Homo sapiens: one gene and its partners. The protein of the gene in region 1 interacts with the protein of each later gene in a biochemical or structural test. Each region holds a gene or a part of one and is shown in the gene's direction. Other genes may lie near its edges.

Region 1 (3,500 bases):
CCTCTCGGGTTCAAGTGATTCTCCTGCCTCAGCCTCCCGAATAACTGGGATTTACAGGCATGCGCCACCACACCTGGCTAATTTTGTATTTTTAGTAGAGATGGGGTTTCTCCATGTTGGTCAGGCTGGTCTCAAACTCCCTACTTCAAGTGATCTGCCCGCCTCGGCCTCCCAAAGTGCTGGAATTATAGGCCTGAGCCACCGCACCTGGCCTATTTTTTTTTTTAATCATAATACAGTTTTGTTGGAATCTTGGCAAATTTATAGATTAACTTGGGAAGAATTGACACCTTTGTGAGACTGAGTCTTCCCAGCCAAGAACAGACTATGTCTTTCCCTTATTTAGGTCTTCTTTTGTGTCCTTTTGGGAGCATTTTAAAGTTTTCTTCACCAGTTTATTTCAGTTTCTAATGCTTTCCTAACCAATCAGTATTTAATAGAATCTTTGACCTACTGCCTTTTCTTTTGTGAGGTTTCTCATATAAAAGCATTAACTCTTGCTACTCTTTTCTATCAATTCCTTACTTTAACTGCCCTAAGGCTTTATGTTAATTTTGCCCCTTGTTAATCTCTGAGAAACCAAACTTCTCAGTGCATTTTTTAAAAATCTTTCTTTGGCTGTTTTATGACTTGATAAAATGCCTTGCCTTGGTCCAGAGGAGAAAGAGAGAAATCAGACAAGGGAATGAGAATGACTTTTCCATCACTAGAGAGTTCACTGTAGCAGTTATTTCTAAATCATTTGCCTTCCCCATCTTGCCCCTTTGTATATTTGACCTTTATCAAATGATTTTTTCCATGTGTCAGATAGTTATTGATTTCTACCGTAAGCAAGGTGCTTTCTCTGTAGGAAAGACAATGACCAATAAGAAATAATCCTTGCCCTTCATTCAGTTGATAATTTAGAGAACAGCCTAAGATTACACTAGTAGTTTAAACTATACTTCTCAATTTCTCAGTACTTTCCAACTTTCCGTGGTTGTTTATTTAAACGATTTTTTGTCCTTTTTTTCTATTAGATTTTTTAAAATTTTATTTTTGATTGACAATAATTGTATATATTTATGGAGGACAATGTGATGTTTTGATATATACTTACAATGCAAAATGATTAAATCAGGCTAATTAATCTCATTAAATCACCTCACATACTTTTATTACTTTTTTGTTATGAAAATTTTAAATAGATTTGTTTTAAAGTTCTGTTTTATTGTTGTTTTGAGATGGGATCTGGTTCTGTCACCCAGGAAGAACCTGGTGGAAACTTTACAGGCTTGTGCCTTTAAAGTTTTTTTTGAAAAATTTTTAGACAATTTTAAACAAAATTTAAATGGTTATCATTTTTGCAAAAAGAGTCTTCATTATCATAAAGTATTTACATTATGGTCTTAAAAGTTGAGGATTGTTTATTCTGTCTATGCATAATTTCTAAAACTTGATATAATAAATCTCTTTTTAAATTTCCTTTAGCATATAATTTAGAAAGTTAAAAAAATCATGCGTAAACTTAATTGCTGCCATCCTGTTTTTCAGCCTGGCTGGGTTGTTTTGGACCAACCAGATGCTGCTTGCCATTTGCAGCAACAACAAGAACCTTCTCCTCTACCTCCAGGGTGGGAAGAGAGGCAGGATATCCTTGGAAGGACCTATTATGTAAACCATGAATCTAGAAGAACACAGTGGAAAAGACCAACCCCTCAGTATGTGCTGATGGCTTTCACAATTTTAATCTGGAAACACTTTAACTACGAATTTTCATTTTGAAGTCATGTCTCAGATGGATTCATAACAGTATAGTGATCCATAAACTATAAGAATACTAGGATTTTTATTGCCCAGGACTTTAAAAATCCTAACTCTGCTGTTTCGTTTTTTAAATGACTTGATAATATTCAAAATTACTTGACTCTAGATACTACCCTTTTAATTGCGTCTTAATTTTAATAGGTTTTTAATTTTATGTAGCCACAAATGGTAGATTTTTATTTTTAGGCTGAATTAGAAGTCTTGGAGAATTCTTGTAGTTTGTTATTAAAATGTAATAAAATGTTAATTTCTATAGTACTCTATTTTTAAAATATAAATTATTTGTAAAATATAAAGGACTCAATAATAAGGGTATTACGTTAAACGCGCATTTGACAGTCTGGTCAATGTCCACATAACTTCCAGCACGCACAGATCAAGGACGGAATGACTTTCAACATATTCTAACTTCTGTCTCCTCAGTGATTTTTTTTATTATTAGACTGTATATACATTTATAAAATCTCCCATTATTCATATTTATTCTCAAATCCCCTTCCATTTTTCCTTCCATATAGTCTTATAAAGTCTTCCTTTAGTCTTCTGTTTGAAACATACTCGTAATTTTTTAATGTGTTCATTAGCCTCCTAATTTTTGGCTATGATATTTTGTGCCTGATATATGCCAAGCACTTTTACAGATATTTTCTGTTCTCAAATCCTTCCAAAACAAATCAGCAATTCAAGTACTTCATGGCACAGAAGCTTCAGTCTTCATAGAGTGACGTACAGACTGCAAAGCTGAAGACACTATAAAATTCTGTAGAATTGCGCTGTTGCATACCTCAGTATTATGGCAAGCCTTACATGAGCAAAATCACAGTTCTTTCACTGTGGCTGATGTCATTTTCAGGTAGCCAAAATCATATATTTAGGGGGAAAAAAACTGAAGCATTCCCTTAGAGCCATGTATCAAAATTATGTTTTCTTTAGCTACGGTACAGTAAGAACTGGTCTTCTGACTAGCCTGAGCTCATGTCGCATTAAATAAACAGTAATTTTATTATTAAATATTTGAACAAAATTCTTGATCTGATAGACTGGTTATATTAAATGCAAATAATTAGAATAATATAAATGACTGGGGTAAGGGTGTTCAATCTGATTTTTTTTAATTTTAATTTCTGTGGGTCCCTAGTAGGTATATATGTTTGTGGGGTACATGAGAGGTTTTGATACAGGCATGCAAGGCATAATAATCACATCATGTAAAATGGGGTATCCATCCTCACAAGCCTTTATCCTTTTTGTTACAAACAATCCAATTATAGTCTTCTGGTTGTTTTTAAATGTACAATTAAATTATTATTGACTGTAGTCACCTGTTAAGCTATTAAATACTAGGTCTTATTCATTCTTTCTGTTTTTTTTAATACTCATTAACCGTCCAATCTGATTTATTGTACCTCTCCTAAGCTCAGACAAATCTTTACTATTACCTTTTTCAGGACAGGCCCATGACTGTATATTACGAAAAACAGATACCATTACTAATAGATATGTAATTCCTAAACCATTAAGCTTTTCATTATAAAGTTCTTACACCATCTTTCATTCTGCCCTTCACATTCATGCATGGAGTACTCTACTCCTGGCTTAAGACCAATTCTAGAAAATGTACTATCTGATTCACAAAGATGTATGTATGTGTAACTCTATTACTCTTATAATAACATGGCAAAATAATACAATGA
Region 2 (3,500 bases), on another chromosome or scaffold:
ATTTTCCAGCATCATTTTGAGAGAGAAAGAAAGAGAGAGAGTATGTGTTTAGTGGCTTAATCATCCCTCCCTTATCTTGTCCTCATTCCATCTACCTCTCCAGGGTTGGTTTCTTATGGAGCCAGTAAAAAAGAGGAGAGAAAAATCAAATCAGCGTAGATCAGGGGCCACATCCTCAAAGGCAATAAAGAATTGATGGAGCTTGTGCTGAACTTGAACTTTAAGTTAAGGGCCCCATCTAAAGGAACAGCAATTACTCAGCTCCAGCTAAATTTTGCCATGTAGAAATGTGGATCAAGTATCAGCAGGTCTTCTGACTTTTTTAAAGAAGCCAGAAACACAAAAAATTTTATTTGAAATTTTCTGAACTTTGAAACATAGTATAAGCCAAACAAGACGTGCCTCAGGCTGGATTTAACTGGATCAGGCTCAGAAGCAGCCTGTTTTTAACCCTTGGTAATTAGATATGTGATGATAATTTTAACAATGGATTTTCAAAGTACAACCTATAAAGTTTGATGGTAGAGGTTGTTGTGCGGGGTGTTTTTGTTTTTGTTCTACCAAACAAGCAAACAAAAAGCCTAAAAGTAGAATGTGCTAGATTCCAAAAAGTTACATTTCACCTTTACCATTGGACCTTTCCCTCCCAGACTGTAAGCAAATAGAAAATGTGGATAATGTTATTAAAGCAACTCTTGCCTTTTAAAAATAACAGGAAAAAGATTTGGGGGCAATCGTGGCAACACTATTGAGCATCATCTTATACCAGCACAATTGATTCTGACTTGTTCCTTTGCTGTATTTCAGCTGTATAACATGCTCGTGGAGACGGGGGAGCTGGAGAATACTTACATCATTTACACCGCCGACCATGGTTACCATATTGGGCAGTTTGGACTGGTCAAGGGGAAATCCATGCCATATGACTTTGATATTCGTGTGCCTTTTTTTATTCGTGGTCCAAGTGTAGAACCAGGATCAATGTACGTATTTCTCTGTTTGCAACATTCAACTGTCGTACCTCAAGTGTGTCTAAGATAATTCAATTACCAGTCTCAGTATCTGGTTTCCTTTCATCCAAAACAAAAAAGGATGTGTGTAGGCTGGTTAATTTCGAAGATGAAAACCTTTTCCTCCCTGCCACATCTTAAATTAGCTCAAGTATACTACTTAAAGAGAAAGGAAAAATAAGTGTATCAATGACTAATTCTCTCAAATTGACTGGAATCTATGTCTTTTTGGTCTGTGTGCACAGACAGGATGTGATCTTCTGGGATATCACCCTTCTTTGAATCAGAGATACGCTGTCATTTAAAAAAAAAACCTGACACCATCCTTTTAGTGTTTAACTTTTAAAAATTATTCCGAAAGAAATGTTTTTAAAAGATAAATTTTGAAAAGCTGGCTTTTCTTTTAAAGGAAAAAGAGCTAAAGGACTAGGCTGCTATTTCTGTCACTGTAGGCAGGTCACTGCTTCTCTTTGCATCTCTATTTTCCCATCATGAAATGGCCTTGCCTATTTTCCCATCATAAAATGGCCTTGTCAATCATCTCAGGATGTTTTGAATAAAATGGGATTGCATCCATGAAAGAATTATGGAAAGACTAAAAGAAAAAGTGGAAGTAGAATCCAGAAGCTGGAATGGCCCTTGAAAAGCATCTAGCCTGGACCCCTGATGTAACAGTGAAGCTAGGCAGACAGCGTCAGTGCCCCTCTCAGATCCCTGATTCTGGAAGTGGTGGCAGTGGGGCCCAGAGCCCAGATGTTCTGAATCTCCCCCGAGTACCACATGTGCTGCTGCATCATACTACATCCTGGAGAGAGGGCAATTGAAGTAAGAAAGGTTTCTTTGAAGAATGTTATTGTGCTTCCTAAGATTATTAGAAACACCCTGAGAATTGTCAGATCTATATCTAGAAGGCTTTATGTTTTAAGGACTAGATAGCATAGATTGAATTCAACTGTAAAAACTGTACATCCTTTTTTAAAATATTGATTTTAAAGCTCTTGTTCAACGGAAAAGTTATGGACTATTGGGTTTTAAGCAAAAGTATGCTTGCTGCAAAAACCATGTATCAGGCTGCATCTTGCCTGGTGATGTGGTCAGAATACAGGGGTGCAGGCATCTCTCCAGCCTGACCCTGGCAAGAGTCAGTTAATCTTGCTCAGTGCCATTGCTGTGATCACACACCCACCCTTGCCACACAACTACCCATGCCTAGGAGACCAGATGAGAGGGTGAGAAGAGTTGAAGGCCAATGAGTCACTGCTGTAGAAAAAGCAGCCCTAAGTGCCACCTTCCCCTGGCATTGGATCTCAGCCATCACCGTGTGCCCCTTTACAGAGTCCCACAGATCGTTCTCAACATTGACTTGGCCCCCACGATCCTGGATATTGCTGGGCTCGACACACCTCCTGATGTGGACGGCAAGTCTGTCCTCAAACTTCTGGACCCAGAAAAGCCAGGTAACAGGTGTGTCATTGTTCCTCCTCTCAGCCAGCCCCAAATACACTGAGCTCCAGCTGGTGCCCAGAGCCAGCCAGCAGCTGAAGACATGGAGGCAGAATATGCCTTGCCCACAAGGATCACCCCAAGCTGAGCATTTCTCAGCTGCTTGTGAATAGCATATTGATGGAGATGCACTCATGGTCTGTGGGAAGTGAGAGGTGTTTCTTTAAATAAGCTGTTAGCACAGATCCATTTGGAAAAACGTCCAGATGCCAAAAGTAAATATTATCATTTTGCTTTCAGGTTTCGAACAAACAAGAAGGCCAAAATTTGGCGTGATACATTCCTAGTGGAAAGAGGGTAATTATTGGTTCCTGGGGTGCTTCTGGGAACCAGTCCTAGTGGGCAGCTTTCCCTGCTGAGTATTTTTTTTCTCCTTATTTTTGTTTACTAAGCATGCAGATTTCGTAAACCTAGTCACAAGATTGAATGGTTTGCTGCTTATTCTGTAGTGGTCAATAGAGTAATAATTGCTGGATCAGAATTGTAAAGAATAACCCTCAAGTTGGTTAATTGGTACAAAAACACAGTTAGATAGAAGTTATAGAATTTGATAGTATAGTTGGGACATTATCGTTAACAATAATTTATGTATATCTTAAAATAGCTAGAAGTGAAGAATTGCAAAGTTCCCAACACAAGGAAAAGATAAATGAGATGATGAATATCCCAATTATCTTGATTTGATCATTACACATTGTAGACTGGTATCCATATATCACACGTACCCCCAAAATATGTATAATTGTGATATATCAATTTTTAAAATACCAAAAAAGCAAGAGAATGACGACTCCACATCCCCCAAAAAGAATAAATTCTCATAAGCTTGGACCAAAGCCTTTATCATGGGTGTAGATTTACTGTTGCATTTCTCAGTGCTGGTTTCTAATCAGACCAGTGGATTGAGTTTCTCTACCATCCTCCCCACGTTCTTCTCTAAGCTGCCTCCAAGCCTCACCCGGCACCCTTCTTCCTACTTCCTACTTC
Region 3 (3,030 bases), on another chromosome or scaffold:
CCCCCTTGTCCGCCTCCAGTAACCACTATTCTACTCTCCACCTCTGTGGGATCAACTTTTTTAGTTTCTGCACAGGAGTGAGAACATGTATTTATCTTTCTGTGCCTGGCTTATTTCACTTCACATCATGTCCTCCAGTCTCATCCATGTTGCCACCAAGAATGACAGAATTTCATTATTTTTTATGGCTGAGTAGTATTTCATTGTTTGTTTACTGCACGTTTTATCTAGGGAATGTGTGTTTTTTTAAAAAATGGAGACAGCTGTCCTAATATGAGTCAACTGCCAAGGGCTTTCAATTATGTCTACTAGAGTTGTTAAATTGGCAGATTCTAGAAAATATTGGAGGTTTACATACAGTATTTAGACAGAATAGCTTCCTAGCTTATGCACCACACTGGTGCTAACTTTGGCAAAGAAAGCAGCAAAGACAGAGTAATGTTGGCAAGCAAATCCATCGTTATGCATTATTAAGTATTGTTCATTAGGCTGCAAAGGGTGAGGGAATCACAGTAATAACCACTTTCTGTTTTCTGCTGCACTGTATCAGCTCATGGAACATCTTACTTTGCCTCTGCACACAGAACGAACACAATCTGTGGCTTGTCCTGTCTCAAGCCTGAAGGCACGGCACCGCCTCAGTTCCTGATCCCACAGTTTAACCGCTCCTCCTTCTTTTGACCTAAGTAAATAACCAAGCCAGAGTAAGTGTTCATTATTGGCTACTATAATTTTTATTATAAACAAATACCAAGTTATAAGCAGAATCTTTTTTTTTTAAAAAGGCCCTGATATTTATAATTTACCTCTAATATTCTTGTAAACTTTCTATGGCAATTTGAGGATATACTATATCTCAGTCAAAATAAACATCCAGTTTCAGTGAATTTTATTTTGAGAAATACTCTTTTTTTCTGACATGAGCATAATTTTATTTAGCCTCTACAATACATTACAATACATTATCCTCTCTCATAATACTTTTTTTTTTTTTTTTAAGATGTAGTCTCGCTCTGTCTCCCAGGCTTGAGTGCAGTGGCATGATCTAGGCTTATTGCAACCTCTGCCTCCCAGGTTCAAGCGATTCTCCTACCTCAGCCTCCCGAGTAGCTAGCATTACAGGTGTGCACCACCACACCCAGCTAATTTCTGTATTTTTAGTAGAGATGGGGTTTCACCATGTTGGCCAGGCTGGTCTCAAATACCTTGACCTCAGGTGATCTGCCTGCCTCGGCCTCCCAAAGTGCTGGGATTCCAGGTATGAGCCACTGTGCCTGGCCTCATAATACTTCTTGATTAGGAAGATGTAAAAAAACAATTTTATTAAAAGGATAATGGAAATGTAAGGCAAAATAATAGAATTACAAATGCTATGCTACAGAGTTGATTTATTTATTTTTTTGAGACAGAGTGTCGCTCTGTCACCTGGCCTGGAGTGCAGTGGTGTGATCTCGGCTCACTGCAACCTGTGCCTCCCAGGTTCAAGCGATTCTTCTCCTTCAGCCTCCCAAGTAGCTGGGATTACAGGCACCATGCCTGGCTAATTTTTGTATTTTTAGTAGAGATGGAGTTTCACCATATTGGCCAGGCTGATCCCAAACTCCTGACCTCGTGATCCGCCCACCTCGGCCTCCCAAAGTGTTGGGATTACAGGCGTGAGCCACTGCAACTGGCCCAGAGCTTATTTTTGAAGGCCAAAACAGAAGCATATTTATTCCCTATCAGGTGTTAAAATATCTCACTGGAACAGTTTAGCAGGCTTCTAGTGAGTGGGGGTGTGCAGGAGTAAATGACGTGGGAAATACAAGTGTTGGAGGACGAAATAGAGCCCATTTATGGATTTTATTCCTGGAAGGGCTGAAAAATGTATTCCTTCCTTTTCTGCTAGATGAATTGCTTGTCTGAAAGCATGCCTATGTGCATTCTTCCTTTATGTAAAAGGCACAAATTCTGCGCTTGTGTTTAATTAACATATGTGGGTTCTTTCAATCCTGTATTGAAATGTACTTCTTAGTCAACTATATGTCACATTTTTTTTTGTTTTTGTTTTTGTTTTTTAAATGGGGTCTCACTCTGTCACCCAGGCTGGAGTGCAGTGGCACCATCACAGCTCACTAAAGCCTTGACCTCCCCAGGCTCAAGTGATCCTCCCACCTCAGCCTCCTGAGTAGCAGGGACTACAGGCATGTGCCACCACACCCGGCTAATTGTTGTTTTTTATAGCGATGGGGTTTCACCATGTTGCCCAGGCTGGTCTTGAACTCCTGGGCTCAAGCGATCCACCTGCCTCAGCCTCCCAAAGTGATAAGATTACAGGTGTGAGCCACTGTGCCTGGCCTACATGTCATGTTTCAACATGCATATGACTATGTTGGTGACAAATCAAATCATAAGTATCTGGTTACTGTTGGGAGATTTGAAAATCACTCAGAAGAGACCTCTTCTCAAATTTTGAGGTCTTGTATAAAACAGTTTAAATTTGCCTCAAGCAAAAGGAAACAAGGCAGTTCTCTCTAGTTCCCTCATCCTTTTCTAAAGCAACAATGTGCATTCTACTCCTTAGAATCCATTCTGAACAAAAAGAGAGCAGGCAGTCAAAATACAACCCTGGCTCCAGATTCCCCCATGGGCCTCCTACTCAGCAAATCATACACAGGCATACAGACATTAAGAAAAGTAACTCAACTTGTAGGACAACTACCTATCCACACCTCAGAAAAAGTATCACCCCAACATGAAAAAAATTGGAAGTGAATTAAGACCAGAAATGAGAATCAAATAGAAGGCACATAAAAGGTAATAAAGGAGAAGCATATGAGGAGGAAGGTCGGAGAGGACACTCTGTGTAGCCTAGAAACAACTAGAATAATTAACTGCAAACCTCAGGTAGGTCACAAATGCATAAATATTCTGTGAAAAGAAAGAGGACTCACGGCCTTTCCTTTCCCCCAGTCACGATAAGTCCATCTCGCAGGGTGGTGTACATGGCAAACACAGGCCCGTTGTGAGCTCTCGCCACGATTCTACACA
Region 4 (3,500 bases), 9.4 Mb from region 1:
TTACCTCATATGGGCATCAAGCACCTACTAGATGTTGGGTGCTAAAGTAGATAAGGCAATAAATAGCTCCTAGACTTTTGATTGTGGACCAGTTAAATTTCTTTTAAACTGTGGGGTATTGGGACCCAGGATTGTCAACTTTTTGTATTGCCCAAGTAAGTATGTTAGCCTACCATGTATCATCATTTTATAAAAGGATATTATAGTACTAAGAAAGGAGGATGGCCTTGACTTCAGAATGAAGAACAGTTCTTCCAAAGAAAGGTACATGGCAACCTTACATCAATATATCTGTTATATAGCCCTTATTTTGCTCATTCAGTCATAATCCAGAGAAAACTTTGCCATAGACTGGCTTTGGTCTGTGACCTACTATTTGAAAACCACTGGCTGGGTGCGGTAGCTCATGCCTGTAATCCCAGCACTTTGGAAGGCTAAGGTGGGCGGATCATGAGGTCAGGAGTTTGAGACCAGCCTGGCCAACATAGTGGAACCCCGTCTCTACTAAAAATACAAAAACTTAGCTGGGCATGGTGGCGGGAGCCTGTAATCCCAGCTACGTGGGAGGCTGAGGCAGGAGAATCGCTTGAAGCCGGGAGGCGGAAGTTGCAGTGAGCCAAGATGCCGCCACTGCACTCCAGCCGGGGCAACAGTGCAAGACTGTATCTCAAAAAAAAAAGAAAGAAAGAAAGAAAGAAAGAAAGAAAAAAACCGACTAAAATGGGCCAGGTGTGACCCATTGTCCTGGCTTGTCTTGGGTAACTGGGACTATAGGTGTAACCACTATAGAGAGGAAATTCACAGGTCTACAGTCCCCATTCCAAATAATACTAAACTCTACAAGCTCACGCCTGTAATTCCAGCACTTTGGGAGGCCAAGGCAGGCGGATCACTTGAGGCCAGGAGTTCAAGACCAGCCTGGCCAAAATGATGAAGCTTCGTCTCTAATAAAAATACAAAAATTAGCCAGGCATTGTGGCACATGCCTGTAATCCCAGCTGCTCGGGAGGCTGAGGTAGGAGAATCGCTTGAACCTGGGAGGTGGAGGCTGCAGTGAGCCAAGATCGTGCCACTGCACTCTAGGCTGAGAGACAGACTAAGACTCCATCTCAAAAAAAAAAGAAAAAACCACTGAAATGGACTAGGGGGCAGTGGCTTGCGCCTGTAATCCTAGTACTTTGGGAGGCCAAGGTGGGAGGATTGCTTGAGGCTGGAGTTCAAGACCAGCCTGGGCAACATAGCAAGACCCTCTGTCTATGAAAAATTTAAGAATTAGGTGCACATAGTAGTTGCACCTATAGTCCCAGCTACTCAAGAAACTGAGGATAGAGGATTGCTCGAACCCAGGAGTTCAAGGCTGCGATGAGCTAGGATCACACCACTGCACTCCAGCCTGGGCGACAGAGCCAGATCCTGTCTCAAAAACAACAACAGCAACAAATGCTAATTGCTTCTCATGATTTTGTGGGTTGGTTGGGTGGTTCTGGGCTTGGCTGGATGAGCTAGGGTGGCCTCACTTACATTTCTGGGGCTTCAGCTGGGATGGCCACCATGCTGGAAGCCTTCCTCTGTGAGGCTCATACTCTATAGCAGACAAGCCAGGACAATGGTGAGGGGTTCTCAGCAGCAAAGAAGGAAAGACAAGCCCTTCTCAAGTCTCTGTTTGCTATATATATGTTAATGTCCCGTTGGCCAAAGCAGGTCACATGGCCAAGCACAGTCTTAAGGGTGGAGAAGTAGGTTCCATCTTTTGATGGGATCTTGGTAGAATCCCACCTGCAAAACCACATTGCAGAGGGGTGCATGGACAAGGATGAGAGGGAATTTTTACAATAAACATGAGATGATTGTAAAAATGGAATGCAGGAGATAGATGTAAAAGTGTTAGGAAGTGGCCGGGCGTGGTGGCTCACGCCTGTAATCCCAGCACTTTGGGCGGCTGAGGCGGGTGGATCACGAGGTCAGGAGTTCAAGACCAGCCTGGCCAAGATGGTGAAACCCCATCTCTACTAAAAATACAAAAAAAATTAGCCAGGGGTGGTGGCACGCACTTGTAATCCCAGCTACTCCGGAGGCTGAGGCAGAGAATTGCTTAAAAAACCTGGAGGGGCAGAGGTTGCAGTGAGCTGAGATGGCGTCACTGCACTCCAGCCTGGGCGACAGAGCGAGACTGTCTCAAAAAAAAAAAAAAAAAAAAAAAAAAAAGTTAGGAAAATTAGAAGTGATCTCCACTTATTTTTTTAATTATTATTTAATTAATTAATTTATTTATTTTTTGAGACGGAGTCTCGCTCTGTCGCCCAGGCTGGAGTGCAGTGGCGCCATCTCGGCTCACTGCAAGCTCTGCCTCCTGGGTTCACACCATTCTCCTGCCTCAGCCTCCCGAGTAGCTGGGACTACAGGCGCCCACCACCACGCCCGGCTAATTTTTTGTATTTTTAGTAGAGACGGGGTTTCACCGTGTTAGCTGGGATGGTCTTGATCTCCTGACCTCATGATCCGCCTGCCTCGGCCGCCCAAAGTGCTGGGATTACAGGTGTGAGCCACCGCACCCAGCCCTGTGATCTCCACTTAGAAGGAGCAATTCATGCTTCTCAGCCTACTGTAGGGAAAAATGTTATTATTTATTATTATTATTTTTTTAAATGGAGTTTCACTCTTGTTGCCCAGTCTGGAGTACAGTGACGTGATCTCTGCTCACTGCAACCTCCACCTCCCAGGTTCAAGTGATTCTTCTGCCTCAGCCTCCTAAGTAGCTGGGACTAAAGGTGTGCACTGCCACACCCGGCTAATTTTGTATTTTTAGTAGAGATGGGGTTTCACCATGTTGGTCAGGCTGGTCTCGAACTCCTGACCTCAAATGATCCACCTGCCTCGGCCTCCCAAAGTTTTGGGATTACAGGTGTGAGCCACCACACCCGACCGGGAAAAATGTTATTAAAGAAAGCAGTCTTGTGCTATACGCTCTGAGTTTGCTTATGTCTCTATCCTCATGAAACCTGTTGTTCTCATGAGCAGAGTCCATGGGAGTTAAGCCTGAGAGTTTAGGGGGCTATTTTTGCAGCACATTTACCAGCTCCCCAAATAAAATTTTGATGCTCTTCATGTTTTCAAGTTTGAAAAGATCCAAAAGCTGACTGGGGCTCCTCACACGCCTGTTCCTGCACCGGACTTCCTGTTTGAAATTGAGTACTTTGACCCAGCCAACGCCAAATTTTATGAGACCAAAGGAGAACGAGACCTAATCTATGCATTTCATGGTAGCCGCCTAGAAAACTTCCATTCCATTATCCACAATGGCCTGCACTGCCATCTGAACAAGGTGGGGCCTAAGGGACACCCTGCTGATGTGGGGAAGCAGGGATGGAGGTGGGAGAGTGGGGAGGGGGAGATTCAGAACCCTAGGAGTTTGCAGGTGGGGTCGGGTAGGTTTACTAACGCCTTCTCACTCAAAATGTGGTCTGCACACCAGCAGTGGCAGCATCACCTGGAGACCTAAG
Region 5 (2,661 bases), on another chromosome or scaffold:
TGTGCCACTGCCCTCCAGCCTGGGTGACAGAATGAGACCCTGCCGAAAGAAAGAAAGGAAGAAAGGAAGAAGGAAAGAAAGGAAAGAAAAGAAAGAAGGAAAGAAAGAAGGAAGGAAGGAAGGAAAGGAAGGAAAGGCCTGCTGAGGGCCTGAACTTTACTGTTCTTGCTGGGAGTGTTGTTGTTCTGGAGCTTGCTGTTCACGGTTCTGGAGCTTTCTGCCATGTGAAGCAGAAGCCTGAAACTGCTCTGGGGATGTGCAGCTGAGGGCTTAGACATTGTTGGGGCTTAAGACAGGCCTTATCAGGTCCCAGGACTGGAGAGCCACCCCCTTAGGAAGCCCAGCTGCTGAAGGGGTTCAGAGGAGCAGCTGGTAAGGTCTTTGGTTTTGCCACGGTGAGAGATGGAGTCGGGCCCCTGAGAAGACGGACCTGGCACAGTGTTAGCAACTAAAGTTAGGAAGAGGAAGAGGTGCGCCTCGCAAGGAGGTGACTCAGACCAAAGGTGTGATGAGCTCTTAGGCTTCCTTAGGCCCCACTTGGCCTAGTGACACTTGGCCAGCTGTCTACACACACTTGGCCACTGGGGTCATGGAGGGAGTCTGACCTCTCAGATTTGGCCGAGGGGGAAGTGCTCTGAGGAGGAGTCAGGCCTCCTCAGGCTCCGTGAGGTCCCGTTGCTAGGGAGTAGCCACTTGCCTTAGCAACCAGAGTGAGAGGGGCTTAGAGGGAGGTATTCATCTTGAACTGGTTGCTAAGAAGTAACTGCCATAGTAACCAGGCCCTTGGAAGGGGCTGAACTCTTGAGTTGCGGGCTTCAAGGGAAAAAGGTTGAATTGGCTGGACACAGTGGCTCATGCCTGTAATCTCAGCACTTTGGGAGGCCTAGGTGGGTGGATCACCTGAGTTCAGGAGTTTGAGACCAACCTGGCCAACATGACAAAACCCTGTCTCTACTAAAAATACAAAAATTAGCCAGACATGGTGGCGTGCGCCTGTAATCCCAGCCACTTGGGAGGCTGAGGCAGGAGAATCGCTTGAACCCGGGAGGCAGAGGTTGCAGTGAGTCAAGATCGCGGCATTGCACTGGGCAACAAGAGCGAGACTTCATCTCAGAAAAAAAAAAAAGAAAAGAAAAAAGGTTGAAATTGAATTCCAGGGCTCCTTTGGTTACTGGGGAGACAGGGCCAAGACTGTTTTGGGGACCCAGACTTCTTCAACGCTGATGGACGGTGGATCTTCTCCAGAAACCAGCCCTTGGAGAACTTTGAAAGCCTGACGCGGTGGCTCATGCCTGTAATCCCAGCACTTTCGGAGGCCAAGGTGGGAGGATCGCTTGAGCCCAGGAGTTGGAGACCAGCCTGGGCAACATGGTGAAACCCTGTTTCTACAAAAAATACAAAATATTAGCTGGATGTGGTGGCATGCACCTGTGGTCCTAGCTACTCAGGAGGCTGAGATGGGAGGATCACTTGAGCTCAGGAGGTCGAGGCTGCAGTGAGCTGTGATTGTACCACCACACATTGCCTGGGTGACGGAGCAAGACCCTGTTCCCCCCCCCCCAAAAAAAAAGACAAACAAACAACAAAAAAACAAAACAACACTGAAGAATCAAGCCGGGAACTGCAGGGGTAATGGTAGGCTATGGGGCAGAGTCCCCACTGTGTTTTTTTTTTTTTTAAGATGGAGTTTCGCTCTCGTTGCTCAGGCTGGAGTGCAATGGTATGATCTCGGCTCACCGCAACCTCTGCCTCCCGGGTTCAAGTGATTCTCCTGCGTCAGTGTCCCAGTAGCTGGGATTACAAGCATGCACCACCACGCCCGGCTAATTTTGTATTTTTAGTAGAGATGGGGTTTCTCCATGTTGGTCAGGCTGGTCTTGAACTCCCAACCTCAGGTGATCCGCCCGCCTCGGCCTCCCAAAGTACTGGGATTACAGGTGTGAACCACTGCGCCTGGTAGTCCCCACTGTTTATAAGGGATGTCCCCTCTGACTCATCTGTGCCTTCCCATCTCCCAGGCGGACCTGAACTGGGGCCCAAGTGGTGAGGAGGCAGGGGCCGGTGGCAGCATCAGCAGTGGTGGCTTCTACGGAGTGAGCAGCCAGTATGAGAGCCTGGAACACATGACCCTCACCTGTTCCTCCAAGGTCTGCTCTTTTGGCAAGCAGGTGGTGGAGAAGGTGGAGGTGAGGCTGGAGGGGTGGAGCTCTGGGTCAGCACTTGGGGGTGCAGAATGGACCAGAAGCCATCATGACTCAGGCATTTGGGAGTATGCATGGAGGGAGTGGGTCCCAGCCTCTTTGAGGGTTTAATGCATGCGTTGGGAGCTAATGGGCAGTTCAGAAGTCACAGGCAGGGATCATTCTGCGGGCTGACAGGTAATGTGTAGTATAGAGACTTAGAGTCACTGAGATTGAGAAGGGTCTTATGGATATGGAGAGGTTCTTAGGGCAAGAAGGTTCAGAAGTCACACTTACAGTTGCTGGAGACTTGGGGAAGTCTCAAGTTTAGAAGTCAGAGTTTGAAGACGTCATGGAGGGGTCTTTGGAGGGTATCTGAGGGCTGGGAGGTTAGAGGAGTCCAGAGGTCTTTGGGGGTTCAGAGAATCACTTTGAGGGGCTTGTGATTTGCAGGCTCAGAGATCCTGATTCGGATCTCCGA
Region 6 (3,500 bases), on another chromosome or scaffold:
TTTTCATTAATTTTGGCAGGTTCTTATGACTCAGAATTTAGTAGGTAATAAAATCCTCGAAAAGCAAGGGGTAGTGTGGAGGTCAAGTAAAGGGAGATATTTGATTACAAGGTTTGTTGGAAATAGTCTGAGGTTGTTGTGGTTTTATGTTTTGTTTTGTTTTTTTGTTTGCCTAGTGATTTTTTTAAAGTTAATTTTGTTGGCTTGGCTTTGTTTTGTCTTGAAGGAGAGGTACAATGTAAATCTTGGCCATTGTGGGTAGGGCAGTCCTCTACTTTTGCTGGAAGGAAGCCACTCCTGCTCTTGGTTTATGTGTTGGCATCAAGCTGAGTTCTACTTTAACTTGTGAGGCCCTTGGCTCTGCTCTCACGGCCAGGCCTTGTGTAACCTTAGGGTATATTCATTTTGGACACTCAGGACAGGACTCCTGGACTCCTAAAGGGGCTCACACATCAGGCATTTTCCCCCCATCTTTTAGGAGAGAGTAGGAGAGTAGCTCTAAGGTGTTGGAAATGTATCCCTGTTAAGATACTGAAGAATTAGATTTAAGTTTTCAAAAACTGTCGTTCTATGGTGTGTGTTTAAACCTGTGTTTGAGACCTCACTGGCCAATATTGCAGCTATATACCTCTATTTTTTCATTTTGTTTTTAAGTAAAATGTCTGCTGTTTACTTTTAACTTTTCGTTTTGAAATGATCATAGCTTCATAGGAAGTTGCAAAAATAGTAGAGAGGTCCTGTGTACCCTTCACCCAGTTTCCCCCATTGGTAACATCTTACATAACCATAGTACAGTAGCAGAACCAGGAAATTGACATTGGTACAGTCCACAGAGCATATTCAGATTTCACCAGTTTTACATGCACATGTAAAATTTGTATTTCTATGTGTGTACTTCTATGCATTTTTTCATGTGTAGATTCATGTAACCGCTACCACAATCAAGGTACAGACTATTTTATTACCCCAATGATCTCCCTTATGCTACACCTCTATAGTTGCACTGGCCCTCTTCTCCCCATCCTCACTCTGTTGCTAAATGCTTAGCAACCACTACTCCTGTTCACCATATCTATAATTTTATCATTTTGAGAATGTTACATAAATACAATCATGTAGTATGTGAGCTTTTGAGATTGGCTTTTCACTCAGCATAATGCCATGGGGATCCATCCAAATTTTTGCATCTCTCAATAGTTTGTTTCTTTTCATTGCTGAGTAGTATTCCATAATATGGATGTACTATGGTTTGTTTAACCATTCACCTATGGGTTTTTTCCAGTTCATGACTATTTCACATAAAGTTTTTATGAACATTTATATATAGGTGTTTGTGTGAACATAAGTTTTCATTTCTCTGGCGTAAATGCCCATGATTGTGATTGCTGGATTGTATGGTAAGTGTGTGTTTAGTTTTTTAAGAAATTGCCAAACTTTTCCAGAGTGGCTGCACCACTCCTATTAGCAATGTATGAGAGATCCAGTTTCTCTGCAACCTCACTAGCATTTGATGTTATCACTATTTTTTATTTTAGTTGTCCTAATAGGTGTTCTAGTAGGTGCTCTAATCTTACCATGGTTTTAATTTGCATTACCCTAATGGCTGATTATGTTTAATGTCTGTCTTTTTTATGTGCTTATTTGCTATCCATATATCCTCTTTGGCGAAATAACTATTCATGCCTTTTGCCCATTCCCTAACTGGATTATTTATTTTACTTTAGAGCTTTAAGAGTTCTTTATATATTCTAGATGCAAGTCCTTAGTCAGATTTGTGGCTTGCACATATATTTTCCCAAGTATGTAGCATGTCTTTTTATGTCCTTACCAAGGTCTTTTGCAGATCAAAAGTTTTTTATTTTGATAAAGTCCAGTTGATAGATTCCTTTTTTCTTTAAGGATGGTGCATTTAGTGTCACATCTAAGAACATTTTGCCTAGACCCATGTCTCAGACATTTTCTGCTGTGTTTTCTTCTAAAAGTTTTATAGTTTTACATTTTATTTTTAAGTTATAGTTCACTTTTGTCTGTCTTAAGAGTTTGTATGTCTTGCTGCTGAGCTTATAAACCATCTATTAGGTCTCGAATATGCACAGATGGACTATCAGGTGTAGTTCCCATTCTGAAGTGCTCACAGATTAGGGGTGTGGCATGTGGACATTACCATGTGTTACTACTATGATGGGGACACATGTGATGTACTGTGGGTGCTCTGAGGAGAGAGGGCTCACTTTGGTCCAGGCGGTCAGGGAGGGCTTCCCTGGGCATGCTGCCCAACCATGGTGGGAATAAAATTGGTTTGCTTTTGATCCAGTTTTTAGATCTTTATTGCCATGAATTCTTTAGAGTGTGTTACTCTGATTCTTGAGCACATGCTGATTGAGTTGGCATAAACTGAGTGGTTGAGGACCTTTTTGAACAGTACATGGCATGATAGCTTAAAAGAAGGTGAAAACACAGTACTTAAAACTCAGTAACATAAACAGTATGAATGAAGTTGAATAGATTAAGAGTTATGTATATGTTAAAATGAAAAAGGAGAGGTAGTATTTTGGATTGAGAACAGGTGTATCCTGGCCCTGCCGCCTCCTTGCTGTGTGACCTCGGAATTGTACATGCTGAAGCCTCATGAGTAAAATGGGGAAAATAATAGTTCTTCCCTCATGGAGCTGCATGAGGGCAAAGTGAAGCAATGCGCACAATGCTGGGCACGTTGAAAGCATTCAATAAATACCTGCTACCATTATTATTACTAAAACAGCAGAGAAGCAAAACACTTTATAATGTTACGTAAATTCGCATGTATCCGTCTTCTTTGAGAACCTGGAACCCCTGTTCTTACTCATGGAAGTGTTCCTTTTCACAGTTGGGAGCGCTGTGAATACTACTTAGTGAATGAGATAGAAGCTAGGATGCCCTATTCACAATCTATTACTATCTATAAAATAAACCTTTCTTTGCTTCTATAAAAGTATGATTTCTGATGAAAGAATGATTTCCTCTGTGCCCTTGAGCACAGGAGGCAGGAGGAGGTGGGTCTGCATTCAGAAGGCTAGTTCAGAGTTTATGGTGCTTGGTACTGTAGGTGCAGTAAGTCAGGGCTGATGTCACCAGGCCGTGTCTCAAATTTCATAACTGGCAGCTCTGTTTCCTTCTTGATGACCAAGTTGTTTACTTCTCAGAGGAAATTAATTGGGTCTTAGATGTACAATTCCAGGACAGTTGTTCTCAAATGTGATTGAGCATCAGAATACCCCAGAGGGTTTATTGAAACATGGATTGCTGGGCCGCACCCCTAGAGTTTCTGTTTCCTTGGTTGATTGAGGATAGGGCCTAAGACTTTGCATTTCTAACACGTTTCCAAGCAATGCTGATGCTGCTGGTACTGGAAACACATGTTAAGAATGACCATTTTAAAACATAGCCCCTTTAAATTGGGCCTGGACTGAGATGCTTACCCTTTGGAATGGAGTTTGTTCATCTATAAGTAATTGAGTTTG
Region 7 (3,500 bases), on another chromosome or scaffold:
GTTGTGTAGAATAGAGTAAAAACTGACCCAACACAGAACTTGGCCTGGGCCAGCTACTACTAACCCACGACATGAAAGCTTTATTGACAGTCGGAAGGCAGCCCATTTGCCCTACCAAACCTTCATAGAAAAAGTAAACATAAGGAAACCTACCAAACATTTCAAACATTCCTAAGTGTCAGCCCTATTAACTTTGATGTTCGTTTGGTTATTACTACAAATCCCCACGTTTATTTCTTTTCAAGAGAAAGTTGTTCGAAATGTGAACGTTTTCCATCTTTACCTGACTGGCCAGGAGTAATCTTATAAAAATTTGAAATTTACTCAAAAATTATAAAAAAAAAAGTTTTTGTAGAAGGTACTTTTTATGTTAAGAATGCTTTGTTAATGGAACGCTGGAAGATTTTCCATACAGCCTTGTCTTATAAATGTTTGTGAGTTCGAATTTTATAATATTAGAAAAGCAACCATGTTAAATAAGCTTGATATCATGAACAGAAGGACAGGAATTAGGAAAGTTTTGCTGTTTTGCTTCCTTCTGTTTCTGAGGATAGACTCGATAAAGGAGTTTGCATGATTCTCGTTATAGGCAAAAGGAAAAGAATTGGGGAACATATGTAATTTTTTTTCCTGCTGTTCATTTCTGTTTGTTTTTTAAAGGCTTGCTGGCCTCATTCATTTCCCAAGCTCCGTGAAAACATAGTTTTGTATTTAGGTCAATCAATTGCCTAGAAGTAATCCTGATGTCATTGGTGTAACCTAAGAAGTTGGCTAGAAGAGAATCTAGGGGTGGGAAGAGTACCAGGAACTTTCATAAATTGGGAGCTTTTCATGTCCACCTGCACAATGGAAACGCATTTCAGTTATATCTTTAGAGAGGGGGAATAGTAAGGAGAAATACCAAAAAAATTATCATCTAAGTTTTAGCCAGGTTATACATACTCAGTTTCAAGAGACTATCACTATTTCACCTGATATTGTGAGAGGAGGAGGAAAACTCTAATCCAATGTGTGTCCCATATTGTGTGTCTGGAAACCTGGCTGAGTTCTAGTCAATGGGGCATTGTATTCTAAATAACAAACTTCCTTGAAAATAATGAGCCCTGAAAACATTCTACTGATATTTTTCAGTGCACCTCTGTTGAAAAACAGGACTCTTAAGTAATTGCTTTATTTAACCATTTGGGTTTATGTCTTTAATCACTTAAATGAGAAGCTTGGTCACCAAGGCAATTTGGTGAAGTAAAAGATGTAAATAAATTACAAACAGCTTTTATCCCCCAAGGCTTATACAATAAAATGGTTTTTCTAAACCATTTTGTTAACTTGTTGAGTTCAGGCCCTTTGAAATTGCTTCTGTAGAGTGTCTAAATGCATACCATTTTCAGTTTTTCAGGTGAAACATCTATTGCAAAACTGTTTCTTCTCTTTAAAGACCTAATGTAATGCATTTTTAGCTAGTTGTAAAAGTTACTGTTAAAAATGTTATGTGTAAAATAACCCCCACCCCATCTCCTCCTATTTAATAATCTTACTTTTTTTTGGGCTATTACAACTTTTGATATAAGTACTAACTCATTGATGTGTTATAAAGAATACAGGACTTAATTCATTGCTAAGTACTTGGTAGAATTCATCGTGAGTCATAATGAGAGGGCTGAAAAAAGTAACTTTAGCTCAGAGAACTGTAAATTATGAGAAACGGCATGAAAGAATATCTCTGACAAATATTTAACTTTCAAATCTAATGGAAGAATTGTGTCTGTTATAGTTAAATTTTCCATTTGAGTTTCTTTTTACCATTGCTTATAAGCAGACTCATATTTGTCAGCTTATACTCTCATTATATTTTAGCCCATTTTGGGGCTCTAGTAATATTTGTTTCTTAAATAGTTTTTGTTCATAGAATACAACTAAACTATCTGTATGCCATTTAAAAAGCATGTCTCATAAAGAAATGATTGGCCACAAGCAGTTAGATTTCATAACAATGACATTTGAATTTCTTGGTACAGAAATACATTTATAACTGAAATATTAGCTTCAAACTCTATTGGTATGTGACTTTGAACAAATGAGGAATTAAATTTATGATAAAAATATTAACATTCCTTGCAATATTGATAGAACCTTAGTCGCCTTCAAATAACCCTTTAAACATTTAGTAATTAACAGTTCCATAATTAGCTTTGCATATCTTGGCTAAGGTTCAAAATGAAAATCTCTCCAACTGCAGTGCTTTATGCAGATACTCGTTTAATGCAGTCGCAGTCATTCCCAAATGCTGGAATTTCACAGAACTTTCTTTTTTTTTTTTTTTTTTTTTTTAAGGAGAAGATGACCACCTTGGTTTTTCTCTCAAGAAGGAACATAAAATAAAAACAAAACTAGTTATAACTTCTTATCACTATCATTTAATCTCACTGTTTTTAAGAAAGGAAGGATGCAGTGTTATTCTAAAGCTCAGTTTTGAAAGAAAATATTGTTTGCGTCATAAGAAAATTCACTGCATTTTTTCATTTAAATTTTACTTTGGACCTGAAAAAAACTTATTTGGGTAGATTTTGGATGATTTAAAGAATCACAATAAGGTCTTTCTTTGGTGATATTTGATGAGATGGGGTGCTTTCAGGATGGTATGGCGATAGACAATGTTTGGTAAGAGAGCGAGATATATATATTTGGAATAGGGTCTTGCTTTGTTGCCCGGGCTCACTGCAGCCTCTATCTCCCAGACTCAAATGATCCTCCTGCGTCAGCCTCGAGTAACTGGGTCTACAGGCTTATGTCACTGTGCCTGGCTAATTTAAAAAATTTTTTGTAGAGATGAGGGTCTCGCTTTGTTGCCTAGACTGGTCATGAAGTCCTGGGCAGAAGTGATCCTCCTGCTTCAGCCTCCCAAAGTGCTGGGATTACAGGTGTGAACCACTGCACCTGGTCCATTGGTGATAATTTGAAATTCAAGTTGCATAAAATTATAATGGGATGCGCCTCAGATATAAATGGACTATCCGAAATAATGATATGATAACCTTCTAGAAATAAAAACTCTGATTTTGCTTGATTCATATGAAAACTTAATGAGAAAAAAAGTATTCCTTCTTTGTAAATTTTATATGGAAGTAACTTTGGCCAGGAGTGGTGACACATACCTGTAATCCCAGCACTTTGGGAGGCTGAGGTGGGAGGATCTCTTGAAGCCCAGGTGTTCAAGACCAGCCTGGGCATCATAGCAAGGCCCCGTTTCTATTTAAAAGAAAGGTAAATTTGATTTAGACTTAGGAGATATGGAAACCACTGAAAATCGTTGGTCCTTGATAATCCGTATTTTATGGGGTATTCCTTCTCTTCACTCCATTTTTGGTAACAATTTCCTCGTCGGTAAAATGGATAATAGCTGTCTGAGGTTTTGTGGATTAAGTGAAAGTACATTATTTAGTGTAATGCCTAATGTTAGTCCTCTTTATAGCATATTTTATACAATTTCTATTATTTAACAG

What was found.
Region 2: the proteins of NEDD4 (region 1) and SULF1 form a complex in vitro, tested with the Homo sapiens proteins (one large-scale study listed by BioGRID).
Region 3: the proteins of NEDD4 (region 1) and ZC3H14 interact in a test that uses a peptide from one of them, tested with the Homo sapiens proteins (one large-scale study listed by BioGRID).
Region 4: the proteins of NEDD4 (region 1) and PARP16 form a complex in vitro, tested with the Homo sapiens proteins (one large-scale study listed by BioGRID).
Region 5: the proteins of NEDD4 (region 1) and TEAD2 form a complex in vitro, tested with the Homo sapiens proteins (one large-scale study listed by BioGRID).
Region 6: the proteins of NEDD4 (region 1) and AMOTL1 form a complex in vitro, tested with the Homo sapiens proteins (one study listed by BioGRID).
Region 7: the proteins of NEDD4 (region 1) and RAPGEF2 form a complex in vitro, tested with the Homo sapiens proteins (2 studies listed by BioGRID and IntAct).

What each region holds. Positions count from the first base shown.
Region 1 is NC_000015.10:55,861,113-55,864,612, reverse strand, and holds part of NEDD4 (E3 ubiquitin-protein ligase NEDD4), read left to right. Parts: intron 1-1,533; coding exon 1,534-1,700; intron 1,701-3,500. UniProt on the Homo sapiens protein: E3 ubiquitin-protein ligase which accepts ubiquitin from an E2 ubiquitin-conjugating enzyme in the form of a thioester and then directly transfers the ubiquitin to targeted substrates. Specifically ubiquitinates 'Lys-63' in target proteins.
Region 2 is NC_000008.11:69,600,847-69,604,346, forward strand, and holds part of SULF1 (extracellular sulfatase Sulf-1 isoform 1 precursor), read left to right. Parts: intron 1-807; coding exon 808-983; intron 984-2,345; coding exon 2,346-2,474; intron 2,475-2,753; coding exon 2,754-2,810; coding exon of another isoform or gene 2,811-2,814; exon of another isoform or gene 2,815-3,349; intron 3,350-3,500. UniProt on the Homo sapiens protein: Exhibits arylsulfatase activity and highly specific endoglucosamine-6-sulfatase activity. It can remove sulfate from the C-6 position of glucosamine within specific subregions of intact heparin.
Region 3 is NC_000014.9:88,622,037-88,625,066, forward strand, and holds part of ZC3H14 (zinc finger CCCH domain-containing protein 14), read left to right. Parts: 3' UTR 1-567; coding exon of another isoform or gene 568-682; 3' UTR 683-2,933; coding exon of another isoform or gene 2,934-3,030. Other genes in the region: EML5 (echinoderm microtubule-associated protein-like 5), read right to left, coding at 568-682, 2,934-3,030. UniProt on the Homo sapiens protein: RNA-binding protein involved in the biogenesis of circular RNAs (circRNAs), which are produced by back-splicing circularization of pre-mRNAs.
Region 4 is NC_000015.10:65,266,384-65,269,883, reverse strand, and holds part of PARP16 (protein mono-ADP-ribosyltransferase PARP16), read left to right. Parts: intron 1-3,115; coding exon 3,116-3,322; intron 3,323-3,500. UniProt on the Homo sapiens protein: Intracellular mono-ADP-ribosyltransferase that plays a role in different processes, such as protein translation and unfolded protein response (UPR), through the mono-ADP-ribosylation of proteins involved in those processes.
Region 5 is NC_000019.10:49,342,756-49,345,416, reverse strand, and holds part of TEAD2 (transcriptional enhancer factor TEF-4), read left to right. Parts: intron 1-2,018; coding exon 2,019-2,186; intron 2,187-2,661. UniProt on the Homo sapiens protein: Transcription factor which plays a key role in the Hippo signaling pathway, a pathway involved in organ size control and tumor suppression by restricting proliferation and promoting apoptosis.
Region 6 is NC_000011.10:94,771,356-94,774,855, forward strand, and holds part of AMOTL1 (angiomotin-like protein 1), read left to right. Parts: intron 1-3,500. UniProt on the Homo sapiens protein: Inhibits the Wnt/beta-catenin signaling pathway, probably by recruiting CTNNB1 to recycling endosomes and hence preventing its translocation to the nucleus.
Region 7 is NC_000004.12:159,106,079-159,109,578, forward strand, and holds part of RAPGEF2 (rap guanine nucleotide exchange factor 2), read left to right. Parts: intron 1-3,500. UniProt on the Homo sapiens protein: Functions as a guanine nucleotide exchange factor (GEF), which activates Rap and Ras family of small GTPases by exchanging bound GDP for free GTP in a cAMP-dependent manner.